7 linked regions of the Homo sapiens genome follow. The protein of the gene in region 7 purifies or fractionates together with the protein of the main gene of each other region. This does not show direct contact. Each region holds a gene or a part of one and is shown on either strand. Other genes may lie near its edges.

Region 1 (3,500 bases), on a different chromosome or scaffold from region 7:
AGTCTGGCTCCGGTGCCCATACTCCTAACCAAAATTTTATGCTGATATTCACTAGATGCACACACTAATATTACTGCTACTATCAATGGCAGTTAACATGAGTAAGTGCTTGCAATGTGCCAGGTGGCTTCTTAAGCTCTTTATACTTAGTAACTTATTTTACCTCAGTAAGAACCCTAAGAAGCAGGTACTCACTGCCATTTAATACATGAGAAAACTGAGATACAGAGAGATTACATGACTTGTTCAAGGTTACACAGCTGGGATTTGAGCCCAGAGAGATCTAAACTACCACACTCTTCTATTAATACTTCTCTACATCAGGGTAACCAATTACATGCTTAACTTATGCCCATTTCACAGAAAAAACTAAGACTCTAACCTGACAATATCAAGTAGCTTGGAGAGAAGGGCTACTTGACATGAGACAAAGCAAGGTTTTCTGGAGACCAAATCTCAGCAGTGTTGCAAAAGTGGGAGTAGTGGGCACTCGATGCCAGTGGTATTCTCTGATGCAAGAGCCTTGGAACCAACAATTCCTCCTCCCTCCCCCAACCTTTGCCTTAAAAATTCCCCATTCAGTGCAGGCAGATGCCTATAAATTTTCAGATGCCCCTACCTGGTAATGGATGACATGCTGGACTTTAGGAATATCCAGACCCCGAGCTGCCACATCTGTTGCCAAGAGAACACAGCTGGGGTAGAGAGAGAAAGCTTATTAATAATAACTAACAGCTATCTTTAATCAAATTCTTACCAACTGCTGAGCATCCTAAACATTACAGTCCTTACCAATACTCTGTAAGATATCACTTGTATACCCTTTTACAGAAAAACTGAGGCTCGGAGAGATTAACTTCCCAAGCTATCTACATGGCTATTCAGCTGTGGAGTCTGGATCCAAATTTGGGACTCATTGACCCCAACCAACATGCCATACTCTGCAATGATAAAGACTCCCTTCAGTGAGTTAAATGAGGCCATACATATTCTGGGTCAGTGACTCCTCTCCTAGCACCCTCTCATTTACTTCCTCCCAGTGGCACACAGACTTCCTTGCTCTTCCCCAAACAAACCAAGCATGCTCTCACCTCCAAGCCTTTGCACTTGCTACTCCTTAAGGCCTTAAAGGGTCTTGCCTCAGATGTCCATATGACTCACTTCATTACTTTCTTCAGCTCTCTGCTCAATTCTCACTTCATCAGAGACTGACCACACATACCCAATCTCTTTTCTCCAACCCCTGCTCGACTTACTTCTTAGGATCACTTGGCAGACTGTGGGCTTACTTTGCAATTTATTATCTCCCTCTACTAGAATGTAAGCTTCATGAGAGCAAGGACTTTGCATTACTCACTGCTGTTATTACCACCACAGAGAACAACATCTGGTTCATGGTAAGCACTTGATAAATGTGTTGGATGATGTTTCTCAATGTGTGGTTCATGGAAAGTCAAAAGTACTTGAGGTGCTTCAAAACATAAGACTCTGGCCCTTCAGGGTCCTCACTCCCTGCATGTCTGAGCTGAGGCCGGGAAATGCAATGCAAATCCTAGTTTGTAAAACATTAAACTACTGCTCTGGATCAAGGTCAGCAAACTTTTTCTGTAAAGAGCCAGAGAGCATTTCCAGCTTTGTGAACCACACAGTCTCTATGGCAACTATTCAACTCTGCCGCAAAAGAGGATATTGACAATACATAAATGGGTCTTGCTGTGTTCCAGTAAAACGTCTACTAAAAAAACAGGCAGCAGCCAGGTGTGATGGCATGCACTGGTAGTCCTAGCTACTTAGGAGGCTAAGGTGGGATTGCTTGAGCCCGTGAGTTCAAGTCTAACCTGGGCAACATAGCAAGACCCCATCTTAGAAAAAAAAAGGGCAGCAAGCAAGATTTGGCACGAGGCCTATAGTTTGCCAAGCCTTGTTCTAAGCTAATCTCAGTAAACCACTGATACTACTTACCAATTTTTAAAAACCAGTAAATCAAACACTTGTTCTAGAAACTAATTACCCCATGACCTGACAAAACACTGGCAAAAGACACTTTGTAGTCTGCCTCAACTTTCCAGGCCCTCATCTTGACAATCTGCACCCCATTCCCTGAGCATCAGTCTGGTCCAAAGGCAGATGGACAAAGACATCAGGAATAAGAAATAGCATGGGCTCTGAGGTCCGACAGGCTTGTCTGAGGCCCAGCTCTACCACTTCCAGGCAGAGAAACCTTGGGCACACTGATCAGCTTTTCTAGACCTCATTTTTCCATCTATAAATGAGAATAGTGATAATGGTAATAAGTAGTAAAGGGACTAGAAATTATTAAAGCTAACATTTAGCAATATATACATACTATGTGCTAGAGACTGTTCTAAACACTTTACACGCATGAATTTACAATCAATCTTCATAACAACCCTAGAATGGGTTCTATTATTATCCAAATAATGAGAAAATTAAAGTACAGAGAAATTAAATAACTTGACCACCTAAGGAGTGACAGAACTAGGATTTGATTTCAGGCATTCTGGTTCCAGGATCTGTGCTCTTAACCATGAATCTATTCTGCTTCCTCTTAAGGATGTTAGGAGAGTAACTGAATGTGATTCTGAATCTAAAGTGCCAGCACAGGACCTAATCTATTGTCTATACATTCAATATTATGTATTGTCACCTATATTCATTAGTATTGAAGTTTCTGTATGGCATTTAACTGCAACCAAATTCACTAAATGACAGTAACCTTGCCAAATGCTGTGCAAAAAAAAAAAAAGGCTACCTACTACTGAGACAAGGCCCCTATGACAGAAGGTGGCTTTTCTACCATTTCCCCACCATCCTGACCCCTTTTACCCCAGTAACTAACTAGAGGTTAAGCCTCTGGGGACAGTCCTAACTTACTCTTCCAGACGGGCAAACTGCTCCAGGTTTCTGAGCCTCTGCTTCTGGTGCATACAGGCATGCAGGGTCAAGGGCATGATATCAAGGACTTTGAGGAGCCCAGAGAGGCGTTTGATGCAGGAGATACTGTTGGCAAACACTAAGCTGCGGCCTGGATACTGCATCAGGAAGTAGTACAAGTAGAAGTCTTTCTCATCAGTCTCACAATGGATCTTGGTCTCTGTTAGCGTCTCCACCGTGGCCTCATTCCTTGTGAGGTCAATGACCTTGGGCTTGCCCCTCATGCCAATTTTCTGCATAAGGAGGTCAAGTTTGGCTGTTTTATCCATTTTCTTGGTGTGCTTCTTATGAAGGATTCGAGCAGGAGCCTGATGCACCAGGGTGAGTGTGGCAGAAAAAACAAGCGTTTGTCTCTTTGGGTTGTATTGGGAGTCATTGAGCATCTCTAGCAGCTGTGAGAGCTCAGCAAAATGGCCTTTCTCAACCATCCGGTCAGCCTCATCCACTACCAGGCACCTGCAGATCCAGAGAGACCCATATCATTGGTCAGCAGCGGGTTAAGAGGAATCATCTATAGCACACCCTACACTCATCCTAAACACACA
Region 2 (3,500 bases), on a different chromosome or scaffold from region 7:
AATTCTGTAAATCCAATTATGTTGGGACAGGAGCAGACAGAGGAGCTGGGTATGAGAGGAGGAAAGGTGGGCTGGCGAGATAGGGTAGAGGGAAGAGTGGGAAGCTGACTCCGAGATGGTGTCAGTTGTTTAGGCTGGGATTGCCTCAAGGGAGTCAGTTACAATCCAGACACTGACAGGGAACTGATCCTCCCAGATGGCAGGAGGACACCTACCTTCTCTGATTCTTTCTCTGTGGAATAGTGGGATGATTCTTCTGATTTTCCACTGTCCTTGGCTTTGGCTTCCTCTAGCAGAATTGTCATGGCTTTCATAGCTGCATCCTGCTTGGCCACTTTCTTGCTTCCAGCTTCAGCTGGGGGAAACTCTCGGCCATTGATGACAACCTGGAATTTAAATCTTGACGGAAAGTGATTAGATGTGTGAACAGGAGTCTAGGTCACTCCTTCTGCCTTCTCCAAAGAGACCTTCAACCTGGAATTTTCTGCTACGCTAAGGGGCTTTTCACTTGTGGAGATGAAGGGTAGGCCAAGGAACTCCTTCCTACTCCTTAAGGCTCAGCCTGTCCTTTCTTTTTGTAAACAAAGCAGCCAGTGACTCTTTCCCCATAGCTCAGTGAAGCAAACATAGGCACAGATGATAGGAAACTAGCTCAGGGGAAACCCACTATCTCTTTAACAATGAATTAAGATAAAACCCACACACACAAAAATGATGAGCCAAAAATTACCATTATAGTCTTGTGAGCAACCAAAAGACCTTCATTCTAAAGCAATTGTGGTAGACTGGCCTCCTCAAGGGAGGGTCCTAAAAGATAGTGAAGGCTTCTTATAACCCAGTCTCACACTCCCCACTACCTAGGGGGATCAGGCATCTGCCACTTATCAGTGGCCTGCTTTTGTCCCTAGACCTATATCACCGTAGTTTGTTATGAGTCACTCTATAGCACCATTTGTCTCCAGCTATTTTCTACATAACAAGGAATTTCCCCTTGTTATGTAGAAAATAAAAAAGCATTTGTTCTAGGCCTCTGGACTTAGCCTAGGCCCCCTTTGTTCAAGCTTTCAAATGTGGTGAGCTCTTTGCTCAGTCTGGGATTTCATTTAGAAAAGTAGGTCAAATTTCTTATTTCCTAGGTCTTCTGATATATTTGAACATGGCACCAATGTTTCTTTTAGTGTGAGTCCAAAGAATGACTAACCACAAAATCCACTGCTTTCCTCCAACTCTGGGGAGGAGGGATGGAGGCAAAAGAGAATGACGGCCATCCAGTCTCTACCCCAAACAATCCAGCTCTGGCCTTGCCAGCTTTTGGACAGACACAACTCCTTTTCTTAACCGCTCTCCTGAAATGCCAAATTGGTGTCATGAAGACAGTCAAGACAAGGAATAAGGGCCCTAGCCAGGAATCTACACCCCTAGAAACCAGGCTAGGTAAACATAAAGGTCAGTGGAATTCTCCCCCATCCTACTGGCTCTTTCCCTGGCTGCAGCTGCAGCCACTCAGCTTCAGTGGTTTTGCTCTCTGTTATGCCCTTCAGAAGCTCCTGTTTTCCTCAATCTGTCCACTGGCCTATTAGGACCTACAGTGCAGGGCCTGACCAGCTATCTGAGTGAGGTAAAGGCTGACTTCACAGCTCAGGAGTGGCAGCAAGTGCTAGCCTACCCATCTGTGCAGAGGAGGTTTATAAAATTAGAACCACCACCTTCAACAGGCAGGCAGCCGTGCACACGCTCCTCCATCCTTTCCCCCCAGGAGCTATGCAGAGGGGGGATTGTGGACCTGCTGCTGCTTAGCAGCACAACCCACCCCCACTGTGTATGCAGCCTGCCCCAACCCACCTGCTCCTGCACCTCTCTCAGAAAACGGCTTAGGGAGGAGGGGAAGGCCTACAGAAGGGAATTAAGTCTTCATTACCTCTGCCTTAGGAGGCAGGCATGATATTGATGCATGGAGATCAATCATGTTTTTCTTTTTTCTTTCTTTTTCCAAGATGGAGTCTCACTCTGTCGCCCAGGCTGGAGTGCAGTGGCGCCAATCTCGGCTCACTACAACCTCCACCTCCTGGGTTCAAGTGATTCTCCTGCCTCAGCCTCCCGAGTAGCTGGGATTACAGGCAAGCACCACCACCCCCAGCTAATTTTTGTATTTTTAGTAGAGATGGGGTTTCACCATGTTGGCCAGGCTGGTCTCGAATTCCTCACCTCATGATCTGCCTGCCTTGGCCTCCCAAAGTGCTGGGATTACAGTCGTAAGCCACCGCCCCGGCCCCCAAGACCAATCATTTCTTTCTTTTTTTTTTTTGAGATGGAGTCTTGCTCTGTGGCCCAGGCTGGAGTGCAGTGGCGCAATCTCAGTTCACTGCAACCTCTGCCTCCTGGGTTCAAGTGATTCTCCTGTCTCAGCTTCCTGAGTAGCTGGGACTACAGGTGCACGCCACCACGCCCAGCTAATTTTTGTATTTTTAGTAGAGACAGGGTTTCACCATGTTGGCCAGGCTGGTCTCAAACTCCTGACCTCGTGATATGCCTGCCTCGGCCTCAAAAAGTGCTGGGATTACAGGCATGAGCCACCGCGTACGGCCAAAACCAATCATTTCTAAAGAAGCTTCATTACAGCCAACAGAGTCAACCTCCCCCTTGTTCAGCCAAGATTCTGGCTGGTCCAAGGTCTATATTCCCTGCTCAATATCTGGAGAAAGGGCCAATCAAGGGGAATTTAGCTAAAAGGCAGAAGGGAAGGAGGAAAAGATAGGCGCCACCAAACAGCACTGCTCACAAATCAGCCAAGACTGCGTCAGGAGCAAAAGCACCTGACCCCAACCCTAGGTACAGTTCCTGGGTGGTCTCTTACCGAGGTTCATGGGGTGGTCCACTCTGCTCTATCATGTTGAACTCACAGGTTTGACTAGCGAACTGGGCATATTCTAACAGCCCGCTGATGGGGTTCTTCAGCTGGCACTCTGTCAGTTTCTTGTAGGGTGAACACCGTGGCAAGCCATGACTGTAGAAGGAGGGCATCTCCATGATGGCTCGAAACTCACCTGGTGCTGCGCGGATACTATTCAAGTCATCTGGGATGTCATCTGTGGCCCACTGGCCATTTTCAAAGTCAACATACCCTGCTTTTGAGGGGCCATTGTAATGAACAGGTGGTTTCAGTCTTGCTGGTTCTGGTCTGGCCTCTTGCCTGTTTTCTAACTTTATGACAGGTTCCTGCCCATTCTCCACTTTTTCTGTGGTTACCATGTTATTTGAGGCATTTGATGTGGGTATATTACAGGTGAGGAACTCTGCGTTTCTTTTGGTCTCAGGGATTGCAGCTGGAGCGGTTTCAGGAACACTGTTCGTATTTCTCTTGATTTGCATCCTCTCTCGCTTCTTGTCTGTCAAATGCCATATGGGAGGGGTTGTCCCTTGTCTATAGACATCCCCCTGCCTTTCCATGTCAATTAGCACAGCATTTATATCTCGGGCCTTGGTAAGGCCAATATTTTTAG
Region 3 (3,500 bases), on a different chromosome or scaffold from region 7:
CTTTGAAAATTAATTTTATCTTGCAAAAGAAAAAAATATGCTTCTCACCTTGCAATCACACTTTTAGAAATCTGATAGAAATAATTACATCAGATAAATACATAAAGATATTCACTATAGCATCATTTGTAATAGCAAAAAAAGAAATAACCTATATCAAGAGAAATAGAAAGAAGCAGAAAAACCAGACTGCCTACATTTGAATATCACTTCTACCACTGACTGGCACTGCTACTCAAGCCAAGACACTTAACCTCTCTGGACCTCAGTTTTCCCACATGTACAATAGGAACAAGAATAGTAGCTACCTCAGAGTTATGAAAATTAAATTTTTGTAAGGCATTTATAACTGGAAGGCACATAGTCAGAACTATGGTGTTTGTTAAGCAAAGAATTAAATAAACCTTACATAAAGAGAGTAGTGACATTATAATGTGTTTACCATGATTAAATGCTAAGGTTAAAAAAGTGGTAGAATATATAGCATAATCCTCTTTCCATTAAAATACAAAGTTGAGTTGTTTCTATGTGTATGTGTTTATATATGAACTTTAAAAGGCTGCTGGAAAAATACCCACCAAATGGTAAATGGATACCCACCTAATGACACTGAGAAGTGTCAATAGGTATAAAATGCTTTTTTTCAATTTTATATACCTCTTTTGTCACCTGATTTTGTTACAAGTGTGAATTACTTCTGTAATTGAAATAATATAAAAGGGGGGAAAAGACATGCCTCAAACAAAAAAAATCATTGCATTATAAGAACTTAGCTCTGTTCATTTGTATCACTACTTACATGCATTAATATTCTGGTAGTTGCTAAAATGCCAATACTTGAATTTGGAAGAACATGAAGAGCAAGGGTACAAAGGCGTTTGATGAAGGCAAGAGCTCGCTGCTGAGAAACTTGCTTTCTGCGCTTAGTTAGCATGACATCAAGGCACTGGAGTACAATCTCAACACCTTCATTGGTAGCACCTAAAACAGCAGACATATTCTTCAGAGCTGTTCTCATTACTTTTTCATTACGCAACTGGACTGAACTTCAGATAAACCCAAGATAAACTTTTGTACCTGTCCCAAACCATTTCTCTAATCAATGAGGTAGTGCTATACTGCTAAGGAGATACAGCGGGCTATACTTACTGCATCTCCAGTCAATTCCAGAAGCTCTTTCTCCAAGTCTTACATAAGATTAAATACAGATGCATGGCACTGGAAAGTCACCATTTTATGTACCTGTTCCTATTTCTCATTTGTCTACAATGATGGGTCATAACATATTCTTAAAACATAAATACATATAAAAGAAACATTATCTAAACATACATACCTGCATGTAATTTGAACAGTGTTTTGTAGAGATGTGTGTAGAATTTCAATGGATCAATATTCAGAACATCACCTTTGAAATGACAACAAACACCAATTAGGTATGTTATAGCATTCAAAGGTAAGGCAAACAAAACTTGATTAAGAAAATATCATACCTTGTCCAGAAAGAATATGAAAAGCAGTCTGGACACAGTGAAGACTTTCTTGATAGCTTAGGTCCTTTAAAAAAAAAAGGGGGGGGTGAGGGGGATGGAATATTAAGAATGGTAATTGCCATTTATAGCTTTAAAAAAGAACTTTAAGGCCAGGAGCAAAGACTCAAGCCTGTAATCCCAGCAATTTGGGAGGCTGAGGCAGGCAGATCATTTGAGCCCAGGAGTTCAAGACCAGCTTGGGCAACATGGCAAAAACCCATCTCTCAGGGCCGGGCGCGGTGGCTCACGCCTGCAATCCCAGCACTTCAGGAGGCCGAGGCGGGCAGATCACGAGGTCAGGAGATCAAGACCATCCTGGCTAACACGGTGAAACCCTGTCTCTACTAAAAATACAAAAAATTAACCGGGCATGGTGGTGGGCGCCTGTAGTCCCAGCTACTCGGGAGGCTGAGGCAGGAGAATGGTGTGAACCCGGGAGGCGGAGCTTGCAGTGAGCCGAGATCACGCCACTGCACTCCAGCCTGGGTGACAGAGCAAGACTCCCTCTCAAAAAAAAAAAAAAAAAAAATTTCTACAAAAAAATAGAAAAATTAGCCAGGTATGGTGCCCCACATCTGTAGTCCCAGCTACTCAAAAGGCTAAAGTGGGAGGATCACCTGAGCCCTGGAAGGTCAAGGCTGCAGTGAGCTGTGATTGCACCACTGCACTCCGGCCTGGGCAACTGAGTGAGACCCTATCTCAAAAAAGAAAAAAAAGACCTATAAAGGTTATCTTTAAGATAACCTAGTATGAGGCAGATTTACAGGGTGACTATAGTTTACAATAATCTATTATCTATTTCAAAATAGCTAGGAGGGAAGAATTTGAATGGTTGTCACATAAAGACACATATTTAAGGTGACTGATATCCCAAGTAAAATATTTACAAACTATATTATATGAATATATTTAATTATCACATATACCCTGAAACCATGTACATCTATTATGCATCAATTTAAAAAAAAAAAAAAGAAAACAGGTCAGACAACCCTCCTGCTTAAAACTCTCCAATGGTTGAAAACGTTCTACATCTTGACTGTGGTGGTAATCATATGATCATAGGCCTTTGTCAAAATTCATAAACTGTACATCTAAAAGGGGTTTTACTGTATACAAAATATATCTCAATAAACCTGAAAAATTTTTAAAATAGTAATTACCATTTATATCTTTTAAAAAATAATTTATTATTACTTACACCAGACTCAATGAGAGTATGAAGAACTACTAACAGATCATCAAAAAATTCCACATTTATAAGGTGAGCAAACCTGGAATCAAACAAAACAGTTAATCAGTGAACTAAAAGCAGAAATAAAGCTGGTAGAAATTAAGCTTGACTTTAAAACTGTATTTTTAATATTCTTTATTTCGAAATGTTAGCTATGAAAGACATGGCAATTATTGATACTTTTCATTAATTCAGATTGGCCTCTTCAACAATTCATACACCATTGAACACTAAACTCAGTAGAAATATATAAGGCACTGAACAAACCAAAAATATTTCAAAAATCCTTCTGCACTGAGAAAGAAATTACTAGAAGCAAACAACTTCCTGAGGAAAGTTTAGGAGGTATCCGGCAGGATCGGCTTCTAAGAAAACAGGTGGTGGGAAGAGAGACAAGGAAAGATTCTGCTACTTACAAGAATATGGACCTTATGACAGCTTTAAGGATAAAATGGAAAGAATACTGGACCCCAGTATCTAGTTCAGGCTCTGCTCTTAATTACCTGCGTGATCCTAGGTAACTCACTTCACTGTCCTGGGCCTCTATTTGTAGAAATAACTGAGACCACCCAATAGGGTTAAAGAAGAATCATATGAGCTGCTAAATTTGAGAGTTACTCCATATACTATAGTAGACACTGAAGTAGGTTAAAGTCAGGACATCTCTTCAATATTAGCAAGAAGTCTTTGATCTATGTAAATCTTAGAAGAATAAAAGACCTTATGAGTGACAT
Region 4 (3,500 bases), on a different chromosome or scaffold from region 7:
GAACCCCCGGCCTGGTTCTCACTTGAGCCGCCCCAGCCTTCGGGGCTTGTCAGCCTCAGCCTCCCGCCGCGCCTGCCGCCGCCTCTGCCGCCGCGCCAGCTCCGCCAGCCTCAGGGCCACCTGGGCCTTGATCCCGCGCAGCCGGAACAGCTCCTGGTGCCGGAGCCGGGCGGCCCGCAACGCGGCCTGCTGTACCCGCTGTGGAGACGGGGGAGGGTCAGGGCTCAGGCCGGTGCTGCCCACACAGGGAGACCTTCTCTCTACACAGGGAGCCTTCCCTGCACAAACCTGCCTGTCCCCGGAGGCCCTTCCTAACCCCGTCACATCAGCGGCCCCTCCAGTGCCTTCCCAGCAGCTGTTTGCTGAAGCCCCTTTTGTCATCCATCTCCCCTGGTCTGCGGTGCAGAAACCTCCCCCCACCCCGCCCCTCAAACAGAAGCGCCAGGGACCCTGTCCCACCCCAGCCCGAGCCCTGCCTGGAAGAGGCTGGGAAATGAGTCTCAGCTGTGAGGATCCCAAACAGCCCAAACCACAGGCCACATGCGGGGCTTGGGGTGTGCAGGCTGCCCGCAGCACCCAGGGCAGCCCATGGTGGGAGGAAGGAAGGAAGGGGGCGAGGCATCAGAGGCAGGCCCCGCTGGCCCAGGCGCTCACCAGCCTGTGCACAGCCTTCTCCCGCCGCCGCTGCTGCTCCGTCTTCTTCTCTGTGGTGGCCAGGCGGGCGGGCGTGGGACAGACCTCGGCATCCCCAGCCTCCGGCCCCTCGCCCTGGCCTGGCTCCCCCTCACCATCCGACTCCTCCAGCAGCCCCTCGCACAGCTCCTGGAATGTGGACTCCTGGGGAGGCGGGGTGCAGTGTCAGGGGTGGGTAGGAGGCCCGGGGAGGGGAGGGAGTGGGCAGGTGCGGGGCTCACCTGGGTGGCGGCCTGCTCCGTGGCGGGCAGGGCCAGCTGCCGCTCCAGCTTCTCCGCCTCCTTCTGCCGCTGCAACTCCACCTCGTGGGCCGCTGAGAGCAGGGTCTGAGGGGCGGGAGTGAGGATGGGTCCCTGAACCCCTCCTGGGACACTGAGACTAGACCCTCTTACCTCCCATCTGTCCCTCATCCAGTGCCCGTGGATCCCGCCCCGGCCCAGGCTTTCCTCCCCACACCCCGTCTACCAGCACACCCACCCTGCACAGAGCCAGAGGGCACCTCAAACCCTCGCCCTCACACCTGCTCTGCACGTCTGTGAAGGCAGTCTGACCTGCACGCTTCACATTTTTTTTTTGAGATAGAGTTTCTGTCTTGTTGCCCAGACTGGAGTGCAATGGTGTGATCTCAGCTCACCACAACCCCCGCCTCCTGGGTTCAAGCGATTCTCCTGCCTCAGCCTCCCGAGTAGCTACTATTACAGGCATGTGCCACCATACCCGGCTAATTCTGTAACTTTAGTAGAGATGGGGTTTCTCCATGTTGGTCAGGCTGGTCTTGAACTCCTGACCTCAGGTGGTCCACCTACCTCGGCCTCCCAAAGTGCTGGGATTACAGGTGTGAGCCACCATGCCCGGCCCACAGTTTCATCTATGTGAATTGGTCAGGGTGGGCTGGTCCCTGAGACAGGAAGCCTGGCAGCCCAAGACCACACGAGACAGGGAATTGCGGGGGTGATGGCTGACATGTGTGAGGTTTCCTTTACGGACAGTGAAAATGTTCTAAAATTGACTGCGGGGATGGTTACACAATGGTCACTAAAAGCCACTGAATCACATACTCTAACTAGGCTGACCGTATGGTTAAGTGAATTTTATCTCTACGAAGTAGTTCTGTACAAATCTAAAAGTGAATGTCTGATCTCCACGCCCCCTCCCACATCTGGTCCAGGAACAGATGGCAGTGAGCGGCACCCTCACGCTTTCAACCATGAGCACACTGTTGCTTTTTTCCGCAGACACTTTTCTCTACCAGATGAGGAAGCTGCCTCTGTTCCTGGCTAGCTATCTCCTTCTTATGAATGCTGAAAACGATTCGGACAAGCGGTCCTGCATCTACCGCAAACATCTCAGCATCTCTCCAGTCACGTGACCCCATGAGAAGGGCTGTTCCTTGAGGGAGGGTTGTGCTTGTTTTTTGAGTCTCGCTCTGTTACACAGGCTGCAGTGCCGTGGTGCGATCATAGCTCACTGCAGCCTGGACCTCCTGGGCTCAAGCAATCCTCCCACCTCAGCCTCCCAAGCAGTTGGGACCACAGATGCGTGCTGCCATGCCCTGCTAATTTTCTGTATTTAGTAGAGACAGGGTTTCACCATGTTGGTCAGGCTGGTCTCCAACTCCTGACCTCCAATGATCTGCCCGCCTCAGCCTCCCAAAGTGCTGGGATTACAGGTGTGAGGCACCGCACCCGGCCAAGGGAGGGGTTTTTGTCCCCTTTGTCCACAGCATCTGTGCTCAACAGATGCCCGCTAAATGCACAGTGGCTCCAGCTAGACTTTCCCATCGCTGAGCTAGCCTCGCCCATATATAACTGTCACTTGGCTGCCAGTGTGCCACCGTGTCACCACAGCCTTTTTCATCTCTGCCCCACAGGCTTCCTGGAAGGCGCCACGGTCTCTCTCAACTCTGTGCCTTTGCAGTGCTGTTCCCACCACCTGGAAAACCCACTCCCCTCCTCCCACTGCAAACCCCTCCCTCAGCCTCTGCCTCGGCTCAGGCGACCCCTCCTCCCGGGAGCCCTTCCTGACCCCCCAGGCTGGGCCAGGTGCCCCGTCTGGGCTCCCAGCCCCAACCACTCTGCCCATCACTGTCTGGGAACAGGTCTCTTGCACTGGACCGTGAGCCCCGTTGCGGACAGGCCCAGGGCTGTCTGGGTCATTGGAGTTCCCAGCACAGGGAGGAAGCTAGTGAAGGCCTGACCAAGAGGCAGAGCCCACTGAGGAGGGAGGCCTGGACGGGGCAGTGTACCTGGTGGTCTTCAAAGGATGGATTGTAGGAAGCTCCGGCAGGCGCCACCTCCACGGCGGGTGCCTGGGACGGCTTGGTGTGCAGGCGTGCTGGCCGCTGTGGAGAAAAGGCCGAGGCAGGGTAAGGCCGTGCGTTGGGGCTGCGGGTGACCCAGGACACAGCCATGGGGCAGATGCTCCAGGCCTTGCCAGTGGTTGGGTGTGGGAAGAGCTCAAGGGGCATTCAGGTGACTCCAGAGCAAGACTCCATCTCAGAAAAAGGATAGCAGCCTATCCTCTGCTACCCACGAGGCTGAGCCCCGGAGATTGTAAGCACCTGGGCTCTAACACTTGGGGTCCAGCAGCTCAAGAAGGAGGCTGCAAATCCAAACTCAAACCCGTGACACTTCTGCCACTTGCCAGCACGGGCTCCACCTTCTCATGTGCTACCTCTTTACATTCTCCCCACCGACCCATGATCTAAGTACAATTTCATCTGTATTTTATTTTATTTTTTTTTTTGAGACAGAGTTTCGCTCTTGTTGCCCAGGCTGGAGTGCAGTGGCATGATCTCGGCTCACTGC
Region 5 (2,664 bases), on a different chromosome or scaffold from region 7:
AAAAATAAAAATAAAAATAAAAAATAAAAAAGCAATGGCGCTGTTGTAAATTTAATTTACCGTCTCGTTCTCCAGATTCACTGGAAAATAACCCCCATCAAACTTCTGTTGAATGAGTGGGCTTTCCCCCTAGCAGTAATTATTCATGAATATACTTATTTGGCTCCACAATGTACATTTAACTTCAAGCATCCAACTAGTTTTTGCATAGGCCAAATACAGAGGTCGTGAGTTATAATTTATTTTCCTATACTTCAATGGCTCGACTCTTGGCCTAAGCAAGCACTAAATAGACTAATAACTACCCACCCATGTCAACTGACTGCATGGCTGGCTCCCAAGTGAAGGCATGGTAGAATAGGGAGGGAACGGCAGCCACCATGCAAGAGGAGAGTCCTCCTTGGTTGGAGCCCATGCGACCTGAGAAAGAGGCATTAAAAAATGAATAAATAACCCAGTGACACCCTCCGCCCCAGTCAGTGCAGCCACAGGAGATAGGGTGAATTCAATCCAAATGGTTATTTATTCTAAAACTGGAAGCTACTTTGCCTACATTTTCGCCAGAATGGTGTAATGAGAACAGGGGAGGAAAAAGTTACAGATGTAAACAATGACACAGTTACATTTTTTTTTTAAATGGTAAAACCCCTTTTTACTGGCCACTTCCAAGAATGCTTTACAGGTTGTGCAAAAACATTTACAGGCTCCATGTGGTGTTTTTCTCACAAGCTTTCCTGTCTACAACTACAACAGACGTCTGATAAAACACTAAACAAGTCTTCTAAGGAAAACAAGGCTAGGGATTCCTCTGGTTACCATAATCCACATTTTCCCCCTTAACATAGTTTTTCATAATAAAAAGACAGAAACAAAACCCGGACATCTACTGTTGTTGCAAATGATCTCTTGGACTAAACCAACAAGGATGTGGCAGTTTCACTTTCCACCCACCTAGAAAAACAGTTTTGTAAAAAAGATTACTTTCTAGTGTCAAATATCAACAGCGAGTACCTCCCCTAACCCCTGCTGGAAAAAAACTCAACTTGATTTAGTTTAGTCCCCTTGCCCCTAAGGGCCCTAGCATCCCCATCCATGTCACAGACTACAAGAAAGATGCTATTTGCAGGACTAAACATCTGAAAAGGGGTGGCAGCCACTGCCTCAGGAAATTCAATTTTCTATTATAACATAATCTTGCCCTAAGGGAATTTCTTTGGGCTCCAGTTTTTACCTCCTTGCCTTGACATTATAAGCAAAGCTTTCTCAAACTCCCTTAATAATAATACAAAGTTAATGTGTTACAGAAAAATTCATGCAATCACTCCACTGCCACACAGAAATCCATTTGAGGACACCGCAGGGAAGCAGGTGCCAAGAGAAAGGACATGACTATGAGTAAGCAAACTTATCTCCTACCAGCCCCATTCCAGCCTTGGGGTCAGAGGTATTTGGGCGGAAGGGTGTGTCATGACAGACAAGGACACTAGAGGCCAGAATAAGGGTCTGTACACCTGAACAAGGGCTGCAGGGCAGTAACAGTGGGAGGAGGAGAGGAAGACCAAATCAGCCCACAATTTTAAACAGAGAACTGCCCAGGTGAGGAAATGGAAGTGAAGCATTTTCTAGTGGCACAGATTTTCTCACTAGGAACTGCTGCAGTATGTGGTGTCTGCTGAGTAAGCTCTTGGCTGACAGTGCTGAGCAGGAGGATGAATGAAAACTGAAGCTAGACATTGAAAGAGCATTCCATATCCCACCCATATTCTTGAACCCAGCAACCTACAGCTGTCTATCAAGAACTGGGAGGGTATTGGTAAAGTCACAAATGAAACTATCCCAACTGAAGGCTCCTGGCTAGAGGCCTCTCTGGGGACACACAGGGAAAGCGCCCCAAAAGGAATTTTGTTTCTAGAAGTCGGGAAGGGGTGCTCCCTTTCACACGCACATTTACACACGTTCACACTCACACTCTTCCCAAGGTTCAGCAGCCCCACTGAGCTGCCTCCCACCCCCCCCCACCACCCTCCCCTCTTCTATTCATTCTCTACCTGTGTATCAAAAAAACCAGCAGGGCACGAGCCCTCCACACTGTAGAAAATAGTTGCTAGTTGCTATTCTCAGCACCTGGGCCTGTGAGCCCACACCACAGGATTCACCTATATACATATCCCGCTGCAGTGAAAAGAATCCTGCTGTGTTTTCGTGTGAGCTGAAACCCTGAGAAACGTTCCTTCTCTCGCACTGTAAGAGGACAGACACTCTAACAGGGATGATTTCAGAGACCTCCCACCTCTCTCAACCTTGGAAGACAGAGACTAGAGACTGGCAAATCACAATCTTTAGGCTGAGGGCTGCAATCCCATTCTCCCCAAGATTTTACAGGAATTAATCAATGGGTCTATAGAAGGGGCAGGCTATTCTGCTCTGCCATCAAGGACAGTCCCCAGGCTTTCTTGGCCTGGGAATCCTGTAAAATAGAACCACCCACTGGCAGTCTCCATGCCTCAGCCAAACAGCACAAAGGCACAGGAAAATGGAGAGTTGGGACACTGTAAGCCTCCCAGCCCACCAGACCACATATCCCAAAAGGGAAAGGTCGGTAAAGAAAATACAAACGGTTAGTTGGTGCAAGTGATTGATAAGAGCCAATCGTTTATTTTCACT
Region 6 (3,500 bases), on a different chromosome or scaffold from region 7:
AGGGAAGGAAAAGAGGACTCTATTTAGATCCAGCCCCATGAAAAAACTGCTGTCTTTTTACACTTAGGGCTAGATGTTGAAATCTGTCACATCTGAGCCCGGCAGACTGGGTGTCCTCAAAATCTTAATGCAGTTTTAAGCTTTCATAATTTCAGAAGCATAAATGATCCAAACTTGCCAAAACATCATTTAAAATTTAATTAAGGCCGGGCGCGGTGGCTCACGCCTGTAATCCCAGCACTTTGGGAGGCCGAGGCAGGCGGATCACGAGGTCAGGAGATTGAGACCATCCTGGCTAACACGGTGAAACCCCATCTATCTCTACTAAAAAATACAAAAAATAAGCTGGGCGTGGTGGCGGATGCCTGTAATCCCAGCTACTCGGGAGGCTGAGGCAAGAGAATGGCATGAACCCGGGAGGCGGAGCTTGCAGTGAGCCAAGAATGCACCACTGCACTCCAGCCTGGGCGACAAAGCGAGACTCCTTTCTCAAAAAAAAAAAAAAAAAGTTTAATTAAATTTCCTTCATGCTTATCTAGTCTTGTGGAATTTGAACAATACCGTTTTACTTTTTTGTTTTAGGCAATGTTTGCTGTCTTCCATTGGAGTGACTGAATTTCTACATGACGGCTTTTTGTAAGTTTGTAGTATTTACATTTTTGTTTTAGGCAATGTTTGCTGTCTTCCATTAGAGGGACTGAATTTCCACCTGACGGCTTTTTGTAAGTTTGTAGCATTTACGCTTACGAATATTAAGCCTGCACTAAGACCTGGGACACCCTGTCTGCTGTGCAGTTAGGCTGACTTTGAAGCTTCTGATGGTTTTGAGCTTTTCTTTGAAGCCCAAGCAAGTGTTTATGGCATAAATTACAGGTATTTTCGCCTGGGGCTAGGTTGGGTTTGAGGTGTAATCAAGGTGCTGGACTGTCCTCCAGGCTCTGAATAAAGGAGAGGTAAGCTCCTTACAGACATTAGCTCATTAGCCAAGCAAGTGGACACAGAGCTGTTCCCATTTCATGGCAAGTGTAAAAATCCGGAGGAAGGCAGGAAGAGACAGTTCTGACTTCCTGTGCAATCCACCCATTTGGCCTTAAACAAGTAAAGACCAAATGAAAATGATGTGAGAGTTATTTTTTAGCTGGACATGTAACCAGATTCTAATCACCTTCTGAATTGATATTTAATTACACTGTAGTGTGTAGCCGATCTCCAGAGAGATAGAATGTTTGGCACAGTTACTCTTGAGTATCTTTTTGTCAACATCACTGCTTTCACTGCTTCTTTCAGTCAATATATTTTGTTTCCAGCTTCCTTCCTAGGCCTTTAATTCCTGCTGGGACAGGAATCTCTCAATTCACTCTTAAGCCTTGTCGAAACCTTTCTTCCTCCCATCTCCCACTCCATCCAGAAATAGAATTGTCCTCAGCAACAGAGGTTGGCAAGCTCTAAGCCGTATCTAAGTTTCAGAGACTGTTTTTTGTTGTTGTATCTTATTAGAAAAGTGCTTTAACGTTTTTCAGCAGATAATTTGGCATATCACGGCTGCTTTCACCTTGTGCCTGTGATGACAATCTATTTCTTGGTGACTAATAAGTTATTCCTGCTCTTACACCAAAGTGCACCTCCATGCTCTTTGAGAATGTGATGTTGGCTCTTATTCCAGCCTTTGTTCTCCCTTGTCAGGCAGGATAGCTGCTCTTGTTGCCTGACATGTTGATCATCCCTCTGCCTTTTTTTAGAATGGTAAGCTTTGAGGGAGCTGGGTTGTGGGAAACGTGATTCCAGCTCCCAGGAGCTTGACAATATCACACATCTTTACAGTAAGCAGATGAGAAGATGACAGTTGCTGCAGCACATCGAGGGTAGTCATGTTTTCCTTCCTGAGGATTTGGTGCTAGGTTGTAGCTGACCACATGCTGTCCGTTTACTAACATACACTGATAGTGAGCTGAGGAGCGGGGCCTGGGACCGCGGAATCAGGGGTCTGTGGTTTGTATGTAGCGTAGAAGCTGAGCTGATGTCTGATAGTGTCCCACAGGGCAAGAGGCCTCCACAAGAGACCAGCTGGACCTTTGTGAACCCTGGAGATGCAGCCAGGATGTACATTTCCATTCAAGGCTGAATGGACATGAATAACCTTGGTCGTTGCTTGGGTGTGGCCTCACTGGCAGTGATCCAAAACATGCTGGTGGAGGAGCAACGGTGATTTCATGCATGGGAATTCTCTGCAAACCAAGGGTAGATCATTTGTACTGAAAGCTTGTTGGATGAAGTCCTACCCTGAAGTAAATTGCATCGGTTTACTTGACCCTCACCTTTATTTTCCTAATGAGGAAGAAAGCTCTGGGTTAAACAGTTCTCAGTATTTTTGCTGTAAAACTTATAATGTAAAACAACAATGCTGTTTTAAAATCTAGTGATTAAAAATTATGTAAGTATGGAAAATTACTGTGACTTCTCTAACACTTCTAGACGAATTTGTGTTTTCCTGAGCACGGTAGCATTTCTGTGAAATTTTACAATGATGTTTATGTGCGTGTGCAGACATACTTCTTTTTGGGGCAGTGCTCGGGACACCTGGGTTTGTGAACTCCAGTAATTCAGCACCCAGCAGTTGGGACACCTGGACTTGGTTCCGTTTCTTTCTGACTTGTCTGACAAGCTGCCACATGAAGAAGGCCCCTGTCCATTACAGCTGAGGCGCATGTCCTCATTTTAACCTTTGTAGATATATAGTAATATTGATATGAATGCTTTTAGTGCCATAGAAATTGTGCCCATAGAATTGCCTCTTCTTCACTTTCTAAACTTCACTCAGTTTTCCTCTTGCTGTGTTCTTAGTATATTTGAGGACCTGAAATAGTTTGTAGTGTACACCTAAATTGCAATGCCTTCTATAAGTTTCATATACAGAGAGAGAGTTTAAGGTATTATGGAAAGTAAGATTTAACACCCTCAAAGCTCTTCATCTTGAGAGCCAATCTGCCAGGTTTAAATCCTGGTTCTGTTAACCGTGTATCCTTGGGCAAGTTATGTAATCTCTGTGTCTCAGTTACCTCATATAAATTTTGAACAATAATAGTCCTTCCCTCATAGGGTTACTGCGGGGATTGAATAAGTGAATAAATGTAAAGCCTCTAGAATAGTGCCTGGCACGTGGTAAGGACACAATAAATGTTAGCCATTCTCATTGTTAATGTTAGTTTTACTTATATGAATGGTGGAATTTTATGTAGATTGCTAATCAACTTTGACTCTGTTATTTTCATGTGAAATTATGGTTGAAAAGTTAGGGGCATGAGCCATTTATTGAAATGAGAAGTTTCAGTTTATAATTATAATTGTCTTTTTTTCCTTAGGACAAGACTTAAAACCTGTCTTGGATAGAGAATATTTAGCCATTTACCTAAAAATGGTATTTTTTACATGCAATGCATGTGGTGAATCAGTGAAGAAAATACAAGTGGAAAAGCATGTGTCTGTTTGCAGAAACTGTGAAT
Region 7 (3,500 bases):
AGGTTCAGGGTGCCTCCTTCTTTTCAATCTGATAATGGTCCTGAATTCATTTCTCAAATTACTCAAACACTTGCACAAGCCCTACGAATCACCTGGAAGCTACACATCCCCTATCAACCCCAGTCTTCAGGAAAGGTTGAAAAAATGAATGGCATTCTAAAAATCACCCGCACCAGGTACTCACTCCAAACACATAAAGACTGGGTTACACTTCTAGCTTTGGCCCTCCTAAAAATTCGGGCACTCTCACGTAAACCTTTAATGCTCATCCCCTTTGAACTCATGTATGGGAGTTTTGAGCATAAGTATTTGAACTCATGCTCCTTTTGTTCCACCTCAGGGTCAAGCCCCACCTCTAACAACCCCTCTCATTTCTCCTCTTCTGCATATCATCTGCCATTTCATTTGGGAATATGCTGACAAAATACAACTCCTTTAATCCCTTCCTACAGTCAGGAAACTGGGTTCTGGTAAAAGGTCCCAGCCCTACCCCCAATTCCCCCCTCACACCAAAATGGAAGGGGCCTTACCAGATCTTCCTCACTACACCCACAGCAGCAAAGCTCCAGGGACTCCCCAGCTGGTTTCATTATACTTCTCTCAAGAACACAGACTTCCCTTCACTACACATCCAAACAATCAAATCTAAACCACCTTCAGCCTCTCTTGTGTCTCCACAGGATCCACTTCCCTTCATCTCACATGAATGCCGGAGGAAAAGGAAGAGAAATTCACCTAAGCAGCTATGTCTCTTTCTCTCCCAAACTTTCATTGCTTCCTAACTAGCCTTGTTACAGACCTTCAGTGGTATCCTTATGAAACTCTCATTATACATCCTGATCAGCTCCTTACTATTCCACGGGATTTATGGCTTCAAGGAACCTTCCAGGACTTTATTCCTACCCAAACTTTTTCCTCCTTTTGTTGTTTCTTTCTATCTAAATTCCCTAATCACATCAACCTCACCGATACAACCACTCCTCACTGCTATCAAACTAGAACGTTCTATAAACCTTACACAACCCCTCTTGCTGCAAGCTAACTCTTCCTTTGCTCCAGAATGCTGGATGTGTTTATCGCTGTCTTCTTCAGCTTATACATCCCTTCCTACACCCCTTCATGACCTTTTAACAGAAAACGTAACCCTAATCTATAAACTCCAAAAAGGAGCTTCCTTTTTTGAAAGAGCTGACAGTCTGGTTGGCGATTATCCCACTTCCAAGGTCAATCAGGCCAACACATTATTTCAAACCTATTACAACTCCCTACAACGCCTTAAGCCACAAGGCCCTCCCATTGAAGGGCCCATAATTAAACACACCCCACTTTTACAACAAGCCTCACTTTGCTTTTCAGCCTCTGAGGGAAATTTCCGTGTAAGATCCTTAAACCTAACCAATGCAACCGCATTATCATTGTTAAACACCCTGCTGACCATCAAACTAACCGAGTTGACTACCAAGTATCACCTGAAACGAATGGAGCATTTCTGCAACCTGTTCGTTTTGCAGCCTCTCCCTCAACCAATGCCTCTGGCCTAATTTGTGCTGCCCCTAGCGCCCACCTTTATCCATGGCTCAACATCAATGCAATGGTGCAACATCAAATCGTATTAAATGTGTAAAAAATAACTCTTCCTATATCGCTACTATAGTGGGTGTCTCCTTGACCTCCTCCTTGACCACCTGGAGTAATGAACCATAGGAAAGAAAAAACACCCATCTTTAATTCACTTGTTTTCTTTCTGTATCTCCAACTGTATTTATGACAAAGGCTTATTTTTTGTGTGAGTGGCACCAACACATATCTTTGTCTCCCCACTAACTGGACTGGAACCTGTACCCTAGTTTATCTTTCTCCCTCCATTGGACTAATTCCTCCTAGCCAACCTTTGCCCATTCCATCCATCCAATACGTTAGGAAGAGGAGGGCCATCCACGTCATTCCTTTAATGGCTGCCTTGGATATAACCTCCAGACTTGGATTGGGAGCAGGCAGATTGGCCACTCCCTTAACATACTTTAAAGCTCTTTCCACAGAATTACAGGGTTCTTTAGAAGATATAGCCTGAAGCATTATAAGAGTCCAAGACAAACTAGACTCCTCGGCTGGAGTAGTCCTCCAAAACAGATGGGGACTAGATCTAATAATGGCTGAAAAAAGGGACCTCTGCCTCTCATTGGGTGAGGAATGTTGCTTTTATCTCAACCAATTGGGCCTAGTAAGAAACGCTGATGAAAAACTTAAAGAAAGGGCTAAAAAGCTAAGGGAGTATCAAAACAACCAACTAGATTCTTGGTTTGGGAACAAAATCATAATATGGGTCATCCCATTCCTGGGCCCCCTCTTAATGATAAGCCTAAGACTATTGTTCTTACCCTGCGTAGTTAATCTTATTCAAATATTTTTAACTGACAGGATCATGGCCATTTCACAGACAACTACCAAAAACATCCACCGACAGCATTACCCCTTCTTCTTTCTTCAGCACTTAAAATCTTACCTCTTGTCCACAGTATACTTTGTTTCTTTCATGTCAGGAAGGTCAAATCTGGGTGCCAAAGATCTAAAAATTAAGAGTTGAATGTAAAACTCAAATAAAATTGAAATCAAATATAACTTATTTAGTGTTAATGTTAACCTTTTTCTTTCTTTTTTTTTCTTCAGAGGCAAGGTCTCACCCCATCTCCCAGCCTGGAGTGCAGTGGTGTGATCATAGCTCACTACAACTTTGAAATTCTGGGCTCAGAGGAGATCCTCCCACCTCAGCCTCCCAGGTAGCTGGGATTACAGGCATGTGCCACCATACCTGGCTAATTCTTTTTATTTTTAGTAGAGACAGGGTCTCTTCATGTTACCCAGTCTGGTCTCGAACTCCTGGACCCAAGCCATCCTCCCACCTTGGCCTCCCAAAGTGCTGGGGATCACAGGCGCAAGCCACAGCACCCAGCCAACTTTTTTCTTTATAAAACTATATACTTACCGTTCTCCTCTGGCCTCTAATACTTTTTCATCCCTCCTCTGGTTCCTTTTTCCACCTTAGAGTGCTCATTGTTGATGCGTCACTAACCTCTCCTTTTCCTCCTCCAGACTCAAAACCTCAGGAAGTACATCTCCTTACACCCTCATCCTAGCTGTTATTCCTTACTGATGATAAGCCACCTGCAAATGGAAGTTTAAATACCACCTAAAACTAAACATATCCAAACTGCTGTCTTCTCTCTAAGCCCTTAACTCCTTAACTTCCTTAACACCATTAGTGCCATGGTTCTTGACTGCATCCTGTTCAAAGTGAAGCAATCTTCAAATCCTTTCTCCTTTACCTCTCCTTCATGCTTTCACTCAGCTACGGGGAACCTATTCCCTCAAGTCATGTCCACTCTTCCTTTACAGTCTTTCTCACACATTCTCCTCATCCCTCCTGACTGCCACAGTAATCGTGGCTGAGGGCACCTCATGTGCAGAACTCTCTTCTCTCCATCCAAGCATCCACATCAAGA

What was found.
Region 1: the proteins of EIF2AK2 (region 7) and DDX24 purify together in Homo sapiens (affinity purification with mass spectrometry; one large-scale study listed by BioGRID and IntAct). This does not show direct contact.
Region 2: the proteins of EIF2AK2 (region 7) and ADAR purify together in Homo sapiens (affinity purification with mass spectrometry; 3 studies listed by BioGRID and IntAct, with this or other methods). This does not show direct contact.
Region 3: the proteins of EIF2AK2 (region 7) and NOC3L purify together in Homo sapiens (affinity purification with mass spectrometry; 2 studies listed by BioGRID and IntAct, with this or other methods). This does not show direct contact.
Region 4: the proteins of EIF2AK2 (region 7) and NOP53 purify together in Homo sapiens (affinity purification with mass spectrometry; 2 studies listed by BioGRID and IntAct, with this or other methods). This does not show direct contact.
Region 5: the proteins of EIF2AK2 (region 7) and HNRNPUL2 purify together in Homo sapiens (affinity purification with mass spectrometry; one large-scale study listed by BioGRID and IntAct). This does not show direct contact.
Region 6: the proteins of EIF2AK2 (region 7) and LYAR purify together in Homo sapiens (affinity purification with mass spectrometry; 2 studies listed by BioGRID and IntAct, with this or other methods). This does not show direct contact.

What each region holds. Positions count from the first base shown.
Region 1 is NC_000014.9:94,057,203-94,060,702, forward strand, and holds part of DDX24 (ATP-dependent RNA helicase DDX24), read right to left. Parts: intron 3,412-3,500; coding exon 2,896-3,411; intron 696-2,895; coding exon 620-695; intron 1-619. UniProt on the Homo sapiens protein: ATP-dependent RNA helicase that plays a role in various aspects of RNA metabolism including pre-mRNA splicing and is thereby involved in different biological processes such as cell cycle regulation or innate immunity.
Region 2 is NC_000001.11:154,598,187-154,601,686, forward strand, and holds part of ADAR (double-stranded RNA-specific adenosine deaminase), read right to left. Parts: coding exon 2,855-3,500; intron 400-2,854; coding exon 216-399; intron 1-215. UniProt on the Homo sapiens protein: Catalyzes the hydrolytic deamination of adenosine to inosine in double-stranded RNA (dsRNA) referred to as A-to-I RNA editing.
Region 3 is NC_000010.11:94,338,940-94,342,439, forward strand, and holds part of NOC3L (nucleolar complex protein 3 homolog), read right to left. Parts: intron 2,807-3,500; coding exon 2,734-2,806; intron 1,558-2,733; coding exon 1,494-1,557; exon of another isoform or gene 1,489-1,493; intron 1,409-1,488; coding exon 1,337-1,408; intron 982-1,336; coding exon 800-981; intron 1-799. UniProt on the Homo sapiens protein: May be required for adipogenesis.
Region 4 is NC_000019.10:47,752,046-47,755,545, reverse strand, and holds part of NOP53 (ribosome biogenesis protein NOP53), read right to left. Parts: intron 3,035-3,500; coding exon 2,939-3,034; intron 1,020-2,938; coding exon 915-1,019; intron 838-914; coding exon 655-837; intron 199-654; coding exon 23-198; intron 1-22. UniProt on the Homo sapiens protein: Nucleolar protein which is involved in the integration of the 5S RNP into the ribosomal large subunit during ribosome biogenesis. In ribosome biogenesis, may also play a role in rRNA transcription.
Region 5 is NC_000011.10:62,712,130-62,714,793, forward strand, and holds the end of HNRNPUL2 (heterogeneous nuclear ribonucleoprotein U-like protein 2), read right to left. Parts: 3' UTR 501-2,664; downstream 1-500.
Region 6 is NC_000004.12:4,283,655-4,287,154, reverse strand, and holds part of LYAR (cell growth-regulating nucleolar protein), read left to right. Parts: intron 1-582; 5' UTR 583-636; intron 637-3,359; 5' UTR 3,360-3,412; coding exon 3,413-3,500. UniProt on the Homo sapiens protein: Plays a role in the maintenance of the appropriate processing of 47S/45S pre-rRNA to 32S/30S pre-rRNAs and their subsequent processing to produce 18S and 28S rRNAs. Also acts at the level of transcription regulation.
Region 7 is NC_000002.12:37,132,981-37,136,480, forward strand, and holds part of EIF2AK2 (interferon-induced, double-stranded RNA-activated protein kinase), read right to left. Parts: intron 2,567-3,500; coding exon 2,504-2,566; intron 1-2,503.